2 separate regions of the Homo sapiens genome follow, and region 1 is linked to region 2. The links come from fine-mapping of genetic effects on gene expression. Tissue or cell type: whole blood. Region 2 holds a variant in brackets; the other region holds the start of a gene. All regions are shown on one strand. Distances are from middle to middle. Region 1 holds the start of ANKUB1 (ankyrin repeat and ubiquitin domain containing 1). Region 2 overlaps PFN2 (profilin 2).

The links. PIP is the estimated chance that this variant, and not a neighbour inherited with it, causes the effect.
Region 1: ANKUB1 starts here. The variant in region 2 is the best candidate, but not a certain one, in a credible set for the expression of ANKUB1 in whole blood (TOPMed, PIP 0.74).

The regions. Positions count from the first base shown.
Region 1 is chr3:149,791,222-149,794,151 of GRCh38, reverse strand. ANKUB1 (ankyrin repeat and ubiquitin domain containing 1) reads left to right here and starts at 1,598. Exons shown (of 6, transcript NM_001144960.3): 1 at 1,598-1,875. The coding sequence starts at 1,786. RefSeq lists an enhancer at 2,712-2,930.
Region 2 is chr3:149,962,216-149,965,120 of GRCh38, reverse strand. It overlaps PFN2 (profilin 2), which reads left to right. Exons shown (of 3, transcript NM_053024.4): 3 at 1-217. Among named protein-coding and RNA genes, the nearest start is that of PFN2, 7.2 kb to the left of the region's middle. The variant T/C (reference allele first, on the strand shown) is at 1,214.

The sequences.
Region 1 (2,930 bases), 170 kb after region 2:
GACTCTTCATGTGCCTGTACCATCCTGTTTTAATTACTGTAGCCTTATATTAAATTCTAACATCTAGTAGGTGACTGCCCCCTCATTACTCTTCTTTTCCAGAGTTTTTCCAGCTATCCTTGCCTGTTTTCTCTACATGAATTTTAGAACCATCTTGCTTACATAAACAAAAAAAATCTTGCTTGTATTTTTATTGAGATAATATTAATTTATAGATAAATTTAGGAAGAATTGATGACTTTAAATAATTTTGAACCTTCCATCCAAGGTTATGATATACCTGCCACTTGTTCAGCCCTTTTTTATGTTTATTGATTGTATTTTATGTTTATGTTATACGGCTCTTACACATTTCTTGTTAAGATCTTTCTTTCTTTCTTTCTTTCTTTCTTTCTTTCTTTCTTTCTTTCTTTCTCTTTCTTTCTTTCTTTTTTTTTTTTTTTTTTTTTGAGACAGAGTCTCACTCTGTTGCCCAGGCTGGAGTGCAGTGGTGTGATCTCAGCTCACTGCAACCTCTGCCTCCAGGGTTCAAGTGATTCTTGTGCCTCAGCCACCAGAGTAGCTGGGATTACAGGCATGTGCCACCACACCTGGCTAATTTTTGTATTTTTAGTAGAGACAAGGTTTCACCATGTTGGCCAGGCTGGTCTCGAACTCCTGACCTCAAGTGATCTGCCCAACTTGGCCTCCCAAAGTGCTGGGATTACAGGCGTGAGCCACCGCACCCAGCCAAGTTTATTCTTAATACATTATCTTTCCTTTTATAAATGGAGTATTTTCTTCTATTATGTTGAAGAGACAGATTCTTGCTATGTTCCCTGGGCTGCAAAGCAGTGGCTATTCGCAGGTGCAATCACAACGTATTACACCCCCAAACTTCTGGGCTCAAACTATCCTCCCATCTCAGCCTCCTGAGTAGGTGGGATAGCAGGCATGTGCCACCATGTTCAGCTTATTTGCTCGCTTATTGAGCGGGTTTGAAATATTTTCCACCAACACTAAGTGGGGGTTGAAGGAGATAACAATGGGAAATTGTTCTAAATAACATAAAGGCAAGGATTAAAGAAAATACCAACTATATTGTGTTGCTACTCAGCAGATTCTATGACACAGAAATCAGAAAAGAAAGCCACAGAATGATTTGCCTACACATTCATCTCCCTGGTGCAAGTGGGTATTGTTCTGTACCCTGTGGCAGGATTATAAATACTGCCAGAGAACAAGTACACAAAGTTGTTATGGAAACCAGAATGTTTCAGCTCAAGAGTTATTTACAGAGAACTTTCAGGATTATCACATTCAATAAAATCAACTCTTGTTTTGCTTCACCCTGTGCTAGTGCATCCCAATCAAATATCTATTTTTAAGGGTTCTTCAATCAGCTGTACTTATGTAAATAAGAATTCAGGAGTCAGTTGATGGGGACCACATCACAAAAGTGTAATTTATGAGTAGCATTTTTGTATCACATGCTTGAAGCTTGTCCATACTTGCCTCAACCATTGTCAAGTTTGCTGGTTTCCGTAATATAGGAATAAGGTGGCTATTGACTACTGCCTTCCGCAGATAAATATTTCCTCCAAAGTAGCTGGTGTCTGTGTTGCCTGATACTGTGGCACTGTGGGACTAGGCTCTTCACATTCTACAACTTACCTTTGAGGCTAGACAGTGACAGCTGCCTCTGGCTATCATTTTTGTCCTTAATTGTGAACCGGAATTTTTCTAGCCATCCAGGAGAATCTTTGAAAAAGTTGGATATTTTTTGTTTGAAAAGGTAATTGTACAATGAGGATTTTCATCGCCTTTGAAGGATCTTTTGAACCGTTTGATGTTTCAGCAGATGAAACTGTGGAGGTTGTCAAGCTGATGATAAAGGTATGTACTTCGTTCCCAAACCACCAAAATGTATATTAATTTTAACAATGCAGTGCATTTAAAAATGTACAAAGGGTAGAGATGCTATTGGGTACATTTTCAGCAAACAGGGAACGAAAACTATTTGAAAATACTATTATTTGCTTACACAATAGATTTATAAGAAGATAGTAACTCTGGTAGTGTTGGACAAGAAAGCAAAAAGAGCCAGTCAATTATCAAGAAAAAAAAAAAGTCTGACTTCTTTTTAGGGAATGTGTGGGTTGTGCATAGGCCAGATAATATTATTGCAATTCTTCATAAAAGGACCAAAGCAAGACACCAACTTCAGGCTATATACGTGGGACATGCCAGTCATCAGATAAATGTCTTATTTGGTGAGCAAACAACTACAAAGAACAGAAGATTTTGGAAGCAGAGAGGACTTTAGAGAACTTGTGAGCTATGGCTTCATTTTGCATTCAGAAAAAACTGAAGCTCTGAGAGGTTGACTATCTTACCTAGGATCACAGAGCCAGAATAAGAAATAACTTGGGTATAGTATCTTCCTTATAAATTTCATATAAATGTTCACTCTAAAATAAAAAATTAAGCAAAATATTTAGTTTCTGATCATCAAATATTTAACTTGGAGATGGTCATTCCTATTTGCTAAGCGGCATTTACTGAACCATAGTTACATGATATTCAGTAGATTATTATGATGATTGAAATCTAAATCTTGTAACACAAGGGATCTTAACCTCTATGTTTTATTAACCCCTTTGGAAGTCTGGTGATGTCTATAGACTGCTTCTCAGAATGTCTTTAAATGCATAAAATAAAACAGATATGATAGAAATGAAATTTGTTATATTGAAATACATTTTCCAATATTAAAAAGCAAATGTATGATATAGTGACATGTGGACTTCCTAATTAACACATTAACTAACAAGTTCTAGCAGCTCATCTAATAACTATTATTTTCAAAATACAGATCAGTAGAAATAATATTTTGAAATATTTGCAACAACTATAATGTGATATGAAAACATCTGTGACTTCTATTGGTG
Region 2 (2,905 bases):
TAGGGACATTCTAGTATTTGCTTCTATTGTTTGGGCCTTGTGGATAATGTACAGATTTAAAAACAAATCTTGTTGCTGATTTGTCCATTTCTTTCCCTGCACTTTGTTACATCTGGGATACAGTCTAACTCATCTGATTTAATATGCATTTAAAAAAATGCCATAACTATTAAACACCTTGTTTACAGACAGATGAAATAAATTTATTCCAACCAAATACTCTAGGCTCCTGTTGTTTATATACATTGTTTATATAAACTGTTAAAAGTTGATTTTTGACAAAGTGGGAATACACAGAATAGGCCAAAGTCTGCTGCAAGCATAAAACTTCAGCAATATTAGGTGATGGCCTACTTCAAGTAATATTACAGATAAAATTAGTGCCTGGGAATTTCTTTTTAATGGACTCTGATCTGTTACACATAGCTTTTAGTCATTTCAGGCTCATCTTCAGGAGTATGTGAGAAGCAACTGACTTATCTGCTAGAAAATAAGTATTTTCCTCTTCTTGCTGGTTTCTAGATGTGAAATCTAATAGTAAAGGGAGTACCAAGAAGGGTTTCTGCACTATTGTGGATTTTTCTGTATTGAAATGTCATATGACTTTAGATTTGGAAGCTGTGTTGGCAGGCTGAAGTCAGCCAGCTGGGGCCCTCCCACATAAGAGCAGAAGACATTCCTTAGGCAGCATATAAGATAATTGGGATGCTTTTGCATTTTTTGGCTTTGTAGTGACATGTTGACCATGGCTGTGTAATAGGTTTAAATCCAGAGGCCATAAAATCCCTGATATATATTGAAGTTTGATAAATATGTAAATTTAGGGCTATTTACATAAATCATTATTACCAACAACTGTCAAGCGGACGCTTAGAGCCAGGGGTGCTCAAAAGTTAGTAGGTCTCAGTAAAACTGGGGAGCTGGTTATAAGGCAGACTATGGACTCTGGGGTTCCACTCTGGAGATGGAGAGTCCATAAGCCCAGGAATCCCTTTTCAGAAACAATCACTGAGTCAGTCTGATTCATTTTAAGTGGTGTATATGCTACCTTTTGAGAAAAAATGGGTTAGGGAATAGGAATTAACCTGTCTTAAAATATACTATGCATAATGAAAGTTTTTTTTTCTTTGACTAGTTGTCAGGCACTGGTTGTGAATATGGTTGTACATACACAGGGATGTACAAATATGGGAGATAAAGGATTTGGGGCTAT[T/C]TTGGTAGTTGGACATAACCTAGAAATTGTAAAACTATAATAAAAACCTGGTATCAGTTTCTTGACCTGTTAAGGCCAAAAGACGGGGCAAATGAAAATTTGGTGGTTGAGTTGTGATGATTTGAGATTTTACAATAATACACATTCACACTTTACATGTAAAGAACTATTAGGGTAACCAATTATAGAAGGCAGTGACCAAAATTCTGAAACTCTTAATTAATCTGTAAGTAGGTGAAGGGGCAGTGTGTATGTGTGTGTTCAGAGAGGAGGTTGTGGGTAGAGAAGGTGGTAAAGGGTGAGTGTATCACTAAAATAGTATATAATGAAACTATTCATTGGCTTTCTACCCACAATTTCATTAGAAAAATACTTAGGGAAATACATACATGCGTACTTTGCTTTGTACTTAGTTCTAGGAATTTAGCATATGGAAATGAAGCTATACAAATTTGTATACCAGAATGTCCATCATGCTGCATTACTTATGACATCCAAACTTGGAAAATATCTACAAAGTTCAGCTTTTTAAGGGGTATGGTTTGAATAAATGATTTTAAGTCCATAGGACAAAATAGTCATTGAAGAATGACATAAGAATGTTTACCAATGAATGTTAATAATATAAGGATATAAACATGTCACATGACAGTGCACATACATACAGTATTAATATACATGTATTTTACATATGTATTTCTGAAGGCAATATATTAAGATAAATTTATCTCTGGAGTGAAAGTTTCCAGGTGACTATATTTTGATTTCTAGTGTTAATATTACTTTTGTAATCAAGAAAGTTTTAAATGTTTTTTAAATAGAAATTGGATTTTAATTGCACCTACTGTCCTGTTTGAAAAGCTATACCATGAAATTATAGAACATTTCAAGTGAACATTCACAGAACCTAGTAACAGCCCTAGCCAGTGCTGCTAAATAAGACACTTCGTAGATTTTTTTTTACAGTTAGTTAGTAATTATTTGGAATTTCAAAAAAAAATTTTTTTTTCCATAAAACTCCTAACATAAAGGGACCAGGTCCTTATTCTAAACTTTGGATTAAAGACTGAGGGAATATAACATCTAATACATACTTAACCATTACCGTGACTTTTTACTTTTTTCCCTTTTCCTATTTTAAAATATTGTTTTAGGTTTGTTTTTATTTAATAATAATTATTTTGAAGGCTATTACTTATTGCGCATTGATGTGCCAGATACTGAGCTCAATGTTTTCTCCTCACACCCTCTTAGGTTAAATGAAAATTATGCAAATGACCAAGCAGGTTTAAAAAGGTTAGGGCCATACAATTATGTCAAATTCCAAACTCTGCTTAACTACCGTGGTAACCTTTGATGTCCTGTTTCTCAGGCCTGTGGTTCTTTAATTTTTTATAAAAAAGGGGAAGAGGGATGAGGTATCAGATAGCTGATGTTGAATTCAACCGTTTATTTTCCAAAGTAGAAATACCTATTTATTTTTTTCCTGATTATGAACATTATTTTTTAAAAGGCAATTTGGAAAGTGAAATTTTCCCTCGATATACCATAATTTACAACAGGGTACCAAAATGTACACTGTTTATTTTTGGAATAATTTTGGCAGCAGTCTAAACTTTTTGGGATATTACCTAACTGCATGTGAATGGTCAGTTACCTTGTATAAAGTCCTAAGGTGATGTGATTTCTCTG